Linked DNA regions of Homo sapiens: region 1 is linked to region 2. The links come from fine-mapping of genetic effects on gene expression. Tissue or cell type: fibroblasts. Region 2 holds a variant in brackets; the other region holds the start of a gene. All regions are shown on one strand. Distances are from middle to middle. Region 1 holds the start of GSN (gelsolin). Region 2 holds the start of LOC107987016 (a long non-coding RNA gene).

Region 1 (5,368 bases), 300 kb before region 2:
AAGTTCTTCCATCAGAGGAGATCCTTATCAGCAAGACATTCACTCTGAGGTGAGGATCCAGGACAAACAGGCCTTACCTTACCTAGATCCAATGGGGGGAGAAGTACAAAGAGGTATCTAGAAAGGAATGAAGACAGGATACCAAGAAGACTTCTAGGCATCCATGAAAGGCAGACTTGATATATCCTGCCAGCTATAAAATACACATGTTGAGTCATAAAGCAAAGCACCAGGAGATTTCTAGAAGTGTTCCTAGAGGAGCACTCCCATGTAAGTATTGGTTATCATCATCACAATCATCATCAATCAATCATCATCATCATTATCTTCATTATCATTTCTAATGATTCCTGGTGATACCCTGTTCCCATGTTCCTCTCCAGCCACCAAATGGAGCAATTACAGGGTTATGGGTAGGCATCTGACCCAGCTTAGAATATGGAACCTTAGATCTAGCTTAGAATGTGAACCCTTTTGCTCTCCTGGCCTCAGTTTCTCCATCTCTAAAGGGAGGAGTTGGAGCAGACATTCTCCAATGTTTCCTCCATCGTGATGTGGTATTCTCCAGTTCTATGGGGACACAGATTCAGAGTTCCACCTCCCTTTGTCTGAGAGCAGTTGCTGGGGCTGGAAATGATATGTTAGATAATTCCAAGGCATGTGTATGCCGGGGCTTGTAATCAAAGATTCCAGAGCCAAATAAGCCTGTGTTTTTGCTTTTCTCCCCAGCAGCCTTGCATTGGGCCCCAGGCAGCCTCTGGAGAAAGCAGAGAGTAGCAGAGATGGTGTGAGCCTCCCTGCGGGGTGGATACCTTGCTTGTATTCTCAGAGAAAGTGGAACTGGGCAGAATTTCCCAAGCCAGGAAAGGTGGCAGAGTGTGACATAAGACATTGAGCAAAGAAGCGAGGGCCAAGGACTCAGGCATAGAAGAGTAGACTGCACAGTATCAGTAGTGTGACCTCCAGAGAGTACTTAACCCTTTCTGTGGGCTTGGCCTGCTCATCTGAAAAATACACATGGTAATGCCTCCCTTAGGAGGCCAGGTAGGGAGGTGAGAATTAAAGTCGGTAATACGTGGGAAGCCCAGAGCATGGCATGAGGCATTCAAGAAATGGTTCTTGTATTTACTGGTGTTGAACAAAGAGAGAATGGCAGGAGGAAGAGCCAGGGTGAGATTCCCTGGGTCCTGTGGCTTCCCTGGCTGCTATTCAATGGAAAAACCAGGGAGTGAGCACTGTGCTCTTGGCTTCTGTGCTACTTAAACAACAGCCTTTTCTGCTCTGATCCCCAGCACCCGGCAATTACTGACTCTAGTACATTTTACCTTGTGTTAAGAGGGAGCTTTACCCTGGCTGAACATGGGGCTGCTGCCAGCACCCAGGCTGGGAATGGACATCTCTGTCATGTGGTGCAGTCTCCTGTGGAGTGTGTGAATCCTTCCAAACCGGAGTCACGCGGCAACTCCAAAAGTCCTGGGAACTCATGTGTGCACCAGGACTGCTGGGAGGCCGTCTTATGCCTTGCTGCATTATAAACGGCTATCGTCTCAAATGCATATGAGATGTTGTTGAAATCAACAAAGTATTACATTTGCTTAAAATTGACCTTGCACTCATCTTTCTACCCAATGTGGATTTCCTCAATCTCCTAAAACAGTATCTGCCATGACACTAATAAGAACATCCCTTCCGTTTATGCAGAAGCCACGGTCCCTGTCATTGTGCTGAGAGTCTTTTTCTCACTGAGTCTTCTCAACCGCCCCATGAAGCGGCAATTCAGGATGCCCATTTGACAAACGAGGAAACGGAGACTTAGACATGTGAGCTCGCTTGCCCAAAGTTACAGGACTAGTCGATGTCTGGGGTTCCAAACCAGGCCTTCTGACTCCGAGGCGCCTGCTTAATGGTCCACTTTAAGGACCAGGGATGCACTTGGCATTTTCGTTACTTCATTCGGAATGAGCTGGGAATCGCTCTTCCTCCTTATTCCCTTCCGTGGGAGGGAATCTCCCCTGCTTTGCATGCAGCCTATGTCACTCTTCGAGGGCTTTGCCTCCTGAAGTCCGTTCTCTCCAGGGCTGAAATCTGCCTCCGCTGGTGCTAGTTGAGCATTGCTCGCTTGCCCGTCCCATCTGAGCTCTTTGGCCCCAGCCCAGCTCAGGAGCTGCCCTGGGTCTCCTCCCCGACCCTAGGCCTCTTCAGATCTCCCCTCCGTGCTCCGGGCCTCAGTTTCCTCCAGGGGAAAGCAGAGGGCTTGGTTTGGTGCCTTCCTGCGAGGTGAAGCGAGGGGTCCCCCTGGACGAAGGCGAGCTTGGAGCCACCCGCCCAGCAGCCGACGGGAGGGCCTGGCGCTCCTCCCCCACCCGCCTGCCCGGCCGCCCCGCCCCGAGGGCGGCTCCCGCCCGCGCCCTGCCCACCCCGGCCGCGCGCACCACAACGCCCCCGCCCCGCCGCCCGGAACCAGCTGAGCGCAGCTGGACCCAGCAGCCGCTGTCTCCAGTGCCGCAGCAGCAGGTAGGGGAGGCGCGCGGCCCCGGCCCCGGGCATCTGGGGGTCCCGGGCTGATTTGAGTCCTTCCTCTCCCTTCCTTCCCGGTCCTATCTCGCCCGCGCCTGGAGCTCGGCCCGGCCGCGGGGGCATCGCTGGAAAAGGGCTTCCTCGCTCACTTTTCCCGTCTTCCAAGGGACCAAAGAGTGTGGATGGGAGTTGGGGGATGGGGAGACGCCGGAGCAGGAGAGGAGAGGGGCCAGGCCTCCACCCCGTGATTCCACTGTGCTGCTAGCACCTGAGCTAATAACCTCGACCCCGCCCCCGGGATGGGGGAACTGGCCCGGGGTCACCCCTGCACTTGGGTTGTCTGACCCGGGCATGCAGGGGACCACCAGCTACGGTCTGGGCGGTGACTCTGCTGGGGAGTCCACTCAGAGGACCCTTGCCTCCTGGACGATACCTGTGCCTGCTCTCCTCTCCAGCTGCTTCCTCTTTCTGGGGACTGTTAGAAAGTTCTTCCTTACACTGTCTGAAATCTTCAGGCGCCTGCTACCTGTAGGTGCTGGCTTCTCCCCGGCCCTGCAGTGTTCCCTTCCCTGACTCACACGGAAGCTTCTTCTGGAGTTGAAGACAGTGATTGGAACCCCTTCTCCCTGAGCCCCCATGTCTTCTGGGGTCCAGCCCCCCAGAACCTAAATAACAGCAACTTCCCTCTGGTCCAGTGCAGGCTGGCTGGTCTGGGCAGTGCCCAGGGGGAAGCCCCAGTCCTTGGAAGGCTGGGGGCTGGGGGTGTGGGTGAGCAGGAGACATTGGCTTTCTTCCTAGCTCCTTGTCTGCCCAGACATCTGTCGCTTTATCCTGTCTTCACACCCTCCTCAGAGCATGGAAGGGAGCTTTAAAACACCCAGAACTCATTCTGGGCTGTCCTGAGGGTAATTGGACTTTGTGGAAGGCGGGGCCTCTGGGGAGGTGCCTTTCGCTTTTGTTTGGCATCTGGGGACTTTTCAAACACTTAATCCTGTGTGTCCTGTTCTCCCAGGACCACATTTCTGACCAGGGCACCAGGACCTCTCACCGCTCTGCCGTTTACAGCGACCATAGCTTGCTAGAATCTTACCCCATCTCCATTTCCTCCATTTCACAGTTGAGAAAAGTCAAGGACCCAGAGAGTTTATGATGGGCTAATTGTCACACAGTGAGGCAGGGTAGGGCTGAGACCCAATTCCGGTCTGCCGTTTGCGGACTCCTTGCTGGGAGGGACTCTAGCCTCCTTCTTGGGTGTTCCGTTTACTAAAGGGACAAGCATTCCCTGTACATACACACTTGGGGGTGCTGGTTGGTGTTTCTTGGGGCTGTTAAGGGGGAGAGGCTTGGAAACAGAGGAGGAAGGATGGGGGTGGGAACGGTCGGCTTTCAGCTCCTTTGAAACTCCATTTTTCTTTCTGGGGCCATGCTATTTATAAATGCCAGGGAAATTGTAAACAGCCAGGGGAGCTTGGGTTGGCACTCGGTGAGTTACACAGCAGCAAAGAAGGTTTCTGTGTGAATCAGGGGAGGAAAGTTTACTCCAGAATTTTCCACAGTCCTTTTATTAGGGACTAACATGAGCCTGGAAACAGGCTGCTCCCAGGAGGGGTGGCTGCAGGGTTTGCCCCGCATGGCATTTCCTTCCTCCCCGCCTCCCTCCTTTCAGCACTTCTCTGGGCCTGTGTTCTGTGCCTTGCCCTGCGAGGGGCCAAAGAGCCTTGGAAGAGGACAGAGCTCTCTGTCCTCAAGATGCTTGCCATCTATACTGTTTGACACTTTTGTGCCATATTAAGAGTGACTTCAGCCTGCAAGAGGAGTGACTAATTTTGTCTAGGTGAGCCAGACCTCAGAATGAATAATCATTTACCAGGAGAAACAGGAGTTGGGGGAAAAGACATTCTGGGAAGCAGGAACCACTAGTGCAAAGGCACTGAGATTTTCTGAGCCATCCATGTGGCTAGAGTGGAGGATGGGAGAAGGGCGGGGTGGTGGGAGGTTGAGAATCTAAATGAAAATGGAACTAGATTATAAGCTAAGGGTTTGGACCTCATCCTGAAGGCAATGAAGAGCTGAGAAAGGGTTTTGACAGAGCAGTGATTTTTAAAAACTCGTTATTCTGAATGGCTGATGTAGGGGATGCATTGAACGAGGCTGATCTGGAGGCAGGAAGGCCCTGAGGAGGCTGTTGCATGATTCAAGTGAAGTAGATTGCAGGTCTGAACTAGAGCAGTGGCCACTGGGATGGGTCAGAGCAGCAGATTCTGGAAGCCCAGCTGAAGGTCTCAGAACCTGCTATAAATTTCATCTAAAAGCAGACAACAGGCTAGACCTACTGGAGAAGGTTGCTAAGGTATTCAGCATTGTAACTTTTTTTTCTTTTTCATGAGTTTTAAAACAAACAAAAATTGTTAAAGAATCCCTCCAAGCCCGCCTCTTTCCCCAGAGGTCGCCACTGTTAACAATGGTGTGTGCACTCCTGCCAAACACGTTGATTGGATGCCTTCACTTTTAGCCATCCAGTGACAGTGGGTCACTTTCCCCTACTCCATGTGAATAGTTTGGGTCATTTGTGATGTGGGTCATAGAGATGATTTCTGCTTGGTCTATGGTACGTTGCTGAGACACTGAGCTCTGGTTTTCTTTAAGAAAACTTTTACATCCTGTGTCTGCGGCCTCTGGGTGTGTATATTTGCTTATCAGAGACCACAGGTGTGAGAGAAGTTAGAAGCACTGACTTGGAAATGGACCCCCAGTCTTGGTTCTTTGGGTGACCTTGGGCAAATCCTATCTCTCTGAGCCTCTGGTTCCTCATGTGTAAAATGGAGAGATGTTGGTTTGCATGATAATAATA
Region 2 (5,368 bases):
AGCAGCTCTGCCCACTCCTGGATGCTCGGCCCCTGAACTCTGCATGGCTGGCTTCTGTTTGCCTGGCAGGTTGCTGCTTGGATATCACCTGCTCTGTTGTGCAGCCCCCATGTAATTCTCTGAATAGCACTCCTTTCTACCAGACAGCGTGCGTGTCTCCCCCCAGCTAGGGTGGAAATTCAAAGGAGCAGGGACACCCACCATCCCAGGCCTTCTACAGGGCCGGGCACAAAATCAGACTCAACAACAGCTGGTGGAATGAATAAAAGAACAGAGGGGGCTTGCACGCGCTTTGCCGCCACACTGGGAATTTTGCAAACACAGGCGCCTTTTGACCCAGCAAGTTGATGTCTAGGGTTTTCTCCTAAGGAGATCAGTAGACAGATGCCCACAGAAGTACAGTCAAGATAGTCCTTGCAGCGTTGCTTGTCATCATGACTACTGGCAGCAACCTAGGTGTCCATCAATAGGGGATTGGCTCAAAGCAGGTGTGACACAGCCAAAGGGTGGAATGTTACGCAGCCACTAAATAGATGGGTCTCTTATCATAAAGGGAGGGAAGCAGAGCCTAGTGCCCGATGTTCAATACGATTAATCCCTGGAGGGTAGGAGCTCTGGTTGTACTTAAACATGTCTAATTCATAACAAGAGGGAAATGGATTGGGAGGTGGGAACTGTCAGGGTCATCCAAGTCTGTACCTTGACTGGTGAAGAAAGTGAGGCCCAGGGAAGCAAGACCCTCTCCCTAGGTCACAGCACTGCCTAGAGGCACAGCCAGAGTTGGGGTCCAGATCTTCTTCCCACTACTTCTGCTCTCAGCAGGTTCTGGGGGTACAGCCAGCCGAGTGAAGGGTGCATCCTGAGCCTCCATGTAGACCCTCAAGTTGAGTCCTTTCTTTTGGAGCCTCAGTTTCCTCATCTGTAAAATGGGCCCATGTTCTCCCACGCTTCCTTTACTAAGCTGGGGAGATGATAAAATTTGTATGAGGAAGAGCAGTGCCCTTTACTGAGTGCTTAGGACACACCCAGACCTGCCCTAAGACTTTGATGCACATTACCCCATTTCATCTGCACAATAACTATCTGAAGTAAGGGCTTGAGTAGCCCCATTCTGCCAACGCGACTCACAAGAGTTGAGTAACTCACCGAGTGGCACCCAGCTAGTTGGTGGCAGAGCCTGGATATAAATCCAGATGGTCAATTTCAGCCCCATCCTGCTAACCACCACATTCTATCTGAAAAGAGACCACGTGTGCATATGTACAAATGGACACGCAGATCCCCTGGGGCCTTGGAGGACTAGGGAGACCTGGACCTGAATCCGTCCACTGGCTAGTGGTCCAAGGACCTGATTTCCCCCTTCTGCCTCCTCAACCCCCAGTCTGCCCTACCCACTGATTAGAGCCAGGGAGCCTGGTGCCTGCAGCTAGCCTGGGTAGGGCCAGTCTCCCTGTAATTAAGGCAGCGGGAGGTTGGGAGCTGGGATCCCTGTCATCCGAGGTTGGGGAGGAGGGGTGACGAGTGACTGAAGGAACCTCCCTGTAGCCAGGCCAACCACGTCAGCAGCCACTGGCTGCTCTGGGCAGCAGTGGGTGGCCAGGAGCAAGCCCGGTGGGTTCTTACCTCTCTGCCACCCCTGGCCTGGACCCTCCTGTTAGCCTCCTGCCTTCACTCCCTGTCTCCCTGTATCTCCCTTCTCTAAATGTCTCCTCCACCCCAGCACCAGAGCCATGTCTCCAAAAACCAGGTCACCAAGGCTTGGCTTCTAGTGTTCCAGCCATGCTGTGGGGATAGAGGATTTCTCCTGCTTTCAGAGCAGAGCGTTAAGAAGGCTGCGGGGAGCCGCTTGCAGGAGCTCCCAGGCAGCCATTGAGAAGGAGGTCATTTCCCTGGAACAAATGCCTGCTGGGGCTGTGTGTCACCCTCTGGAACACGCCCACACCCCCAGGCTGGCACTCCAGGCCCTTTCTTGATCTAGCCCAAACCTGCTTATCAGCCCTGACTTCCTCCCAGTCACCTGTCATTTCCATTGTGTGTTACCTTCTTGCCTCCACGCCTTTGCTTGTGCCATTCCCTCTAACTGGGACGCCCTCACTTTTCCCTGCTTGGCCCATCAAATTCTGCTCTTCTTTCTCTGCCCAGTTCAAACACCTCCTCCTCTCGGCAGCCTTCCCTGGTTGAGCCCAAATGAAGCTGTCTCCCATAAGCCCACGGTACTGCCCTGTGGCTTGGGTGGGCTTGTGGGAGAGGAAGATGCAGATTTTTTTTTTTTTTTTTTTTTTTTGAGATGGACTCTCGCTCTGTCGCCCAGGCTGGAGTGCAGTGGCACGATCTTGGCTCACTGCAACCTCCGCCTCCCGGATATAAGTGATTCTCCTGCCTCAGCCTCCCAAGTAGCTGGAATTACAGGCACGCATCGCCACACCAGGCTAATTTTTTGTATTTTTAGTAGAGATATGGGGGTTCACCATGTTGGCCAGGCTGGTCTCTAACTCCTGACCTCAGGTGATCCGCACGCCTCAGCCTCCCAAAGTGCTGGGATTACAGGTGTGAGCCACCACGCCCGCCTAGGAGATGCAGATTGAATGCAGATTGATTGAGATGCATCTTTGTCCTCCCCACCATCCCAGCACCAAGGCTGTGCACTCTCTGGGGTCCAGACCTGCCCTGGTGGTCACTCACAACTGTGGCCTTGGTCAAGTCACATCACCTCTCTAAACTGCATTGTCCCCGTCTGTAAAATAGGAGAACCAGAGTTTCTCCTGGAAGGGACCATAGTGAGGAATGTATGAGACAATGTGGGCAAATACTTGAAATGGTGCTCACCTCTGGTGCCTGCTTAATAAATAGCACCCAGGGTTCCTACAGCTGTGGCCGTGGAGCCTGCATCTCCCTCTC[C/CCCTGGTGG]CCTGGTGGCTTCCCCTCTTTTACAAGGTCACCAGGGAGGCCTTCCCAGAGGACAATCCGGATCATGTCATTCTCACAGACCCTCCTCCAGGCAGGCCTGGAGTCATCCCCAAAGGCTCTGTCCAACCCACTCCTGCCTCTCTCCCTGGCTCCCCCGTCCCATCTCTCACCAGCCTCGCATCATTTGCTCTACTCCAACCACCTGGAACTTATTCGGGGGGGCACTGAACGCCCCACGCACCCTTTCACCTCAGGGCTATTGCACAGGTCACTCCCTCCTTCTGTACCTGGCTAACTCCTTCTCGTCCTTTAGGCCCCAGCTTACGTGCCCATTCCTCCAGGAGGCCTTCCCCGACCACCTCTTCCATCCAGGTGAGGCGCCCCTTCTCTGTTCCTGCAGCTCTTGCACCACACACTGCGCTGCAATGACCTGCTTTCCTGTGAGCTCCAAGAAGCCAGGCACTGTGCCTCGCTCCCTGCTGCAAACTCAGCACCGGGCACGGTGTCTGGTGCAGACTAGATGCTCAAAAAACATTTAGTGACTAACTGAATGGATGGATGAGTCAATTTCTGCATCCCCCACACTGCGGGAAATGTCTGTAGAACAGATTTGAGTGGGAGGTTCCAGCAGGGCCTGGGAGAAGCCCTTGGGGTTTGGGCACTGGGGGTAAACAGAGCAGACCCCCCAACCCCTCCCCTGGGGGGCTGGGCTCCCCGCTTCCTGCAAACCCCCTGGGCCCCAGAGCCGGCTTCCAGATGCTAAGCCCGTCTCAGCCTCACCTCTTAGCTTTTCCATCTGCACAGCCGGGCCAGATCCCCGCAGCCAGCATCACGGGCAGCCAGGCCAACCGTCCCGGCGTCTTCCTATTTTAGACATCTCGCTGCCTCAGTCCCTTCTAATGTTTCCAGCCAGGCTGCGGGGGGAGGAAAAAGAGGTTACTGCTACTTTAAATGTACTGTATGAAGGCGAGGGCTGGAAAGGGGCCTGCTTGCAGGAATACCCAGTCATCTAGTTGGAAAAGCCGCCAGATGGAATACAAAAGGAGGAACCCAGACGCTCATGGAGACAGCCTCGGTTCATAAATCAGGTGGGGCCAGGGGCTGGGGGCCCACACGCCATGGAGCCCGACTCCCTTCTGGACCAAGACGACTCCTACGGTAAGACGGTGCCAGCAAAGTGCAGAGTTGGGGGTTTCAGCCTCTCTGCTCAACAGACTTTTCTCTGCTATAGGAATCTGAGTTGAAGCAGGGAGGCAGTCAGGCATCTGGGCACTGTCTGGTCTTGGGACCCATGGGTGGGCATGGGTGCGTTGGGCTATGAGACTCAGGGCTGGAGGGTCCCTGGAGCGGGCAGCCCCTCAGACTCCAGGCATTGACAAGGTCCAGGGGAGGGAGAGAGAGTTTCTCAGCTGCTTCTGTTTTGCTCCTGGCCAAGAAGGAAAGGAAGGAAGTTTTGCAGCCCCCCTGCCTGTCTGCCTACCTCGCTGTTCGCCAGGCCTGCCCTGTGCTGTGGGGAATTCAATTAGTGCGATCCTGCGGATAAATATAGATGGAAGAGGCAACAGGAACATACCTTGTAATTAAAGGCCAGGGCTCATGCTGAAAGCACTCCCCGTGTGACAGGGCCCCAGTGGCTGCCACCGGAGAGCTGCCCAGGCCACTGGAAGCTCTGCATGCATTATTGGGGGAAAAGTTGCTCGGGACAGAGCCCATGCAGAGTCTGGAAGAGGGATTTATAAGACTCGGAAGGGTTCCTTCGTGGTGGTTTCTGCAGGCCTGGGGCTCCAGCGACGCAGTAACTCAGCTCCTGCACTACTCAGCCTGGCCAGAGAGCTCACATTTGGCTGGGATGCCCGGCACAGCCTGGCTGTCTCTGGACAACCAAGGAGGGACGCAAGAGTGCAAGAGTGTGGCCGAGGCACCGAGGCTGGGCATGGGGGGGTGGGGCAGCAGGTTTTGGGACTCAGCAGGGAGAAGTCCTGTTGGCCTCGGAAGAGGTGGTAATTGCAGGGCGACCTCATCCCAGCTTGGGTCAGGTCAGCCTTCCAGGGGTTCAGGTCCTCCTGAGACCACAGTTCTACTAAGAAAACCAAGTGCTTGTTTCTCCGGACTTTCCCCCACCCCATCCAGGCCTGGCTGCCTGGCACAGATTCAAGGCCAAATTTCCTTCCTCCTGCAGGAGCTCAGCCCTTTCCAAGGAGAGGGGCCCTTTGCCACGTTTGGAGCTGCAGCCCTCAGGGAAGCTTGGCAAGGCCCAGCCCACAGACCTGGCATCTTTGGGCCCAGGGGACGGGGGGTCAGTTGATGCATGCAGAGTGACCTCCATGTGCCAAGCCCTGTGTCAGGGTCAGGGATGTGTAGGAATGAGGAACTCAGTCCTAACAAATAGTTGGTGCTTAGTGAATGGAAGGAGGAGGAGAATACAAAGGGAGGAGAGAGGGAAAAAAATAGGGAGAGCAGCCCTTGGCCT

Evidence for each region. PIP is the estimated chance that this variant, and not a neighbour inherited with it, causes the effect.
Region 1: GSN starts here. The variant in region 2 is the best candidate, but not a certain one, in a credible set for the expression of GSN in fibroblasts (GTEx, PIP 0.65).

Annotation. Positions count from the first base shown.
Region 1 is chr9:121,265,706-121,271,073 of GRCh38, forward strand. It overlaps GSN (gelsolin), which reads left to right and starts at 2,457. Exons shown (of 18, transcript NM_198252.3): 1 at 2,457-2,514. RefSeq lists a silencer at 2,345-2,644.
Region 2 is chr9:121,563,173-121,568,540 of GRCh38, forward strand. LOC107987016 (a long non-coding RNA gene) reads right to left here and starts at 3,812. Exons shown (of 2, transcript XR_001746560.2): 1 at 3,679-3,812. It also overlaps a transcript of DAB2IP not described here. The variant C/CCCTGGTGG (reference allele first, on the strand shown) is at 2,899.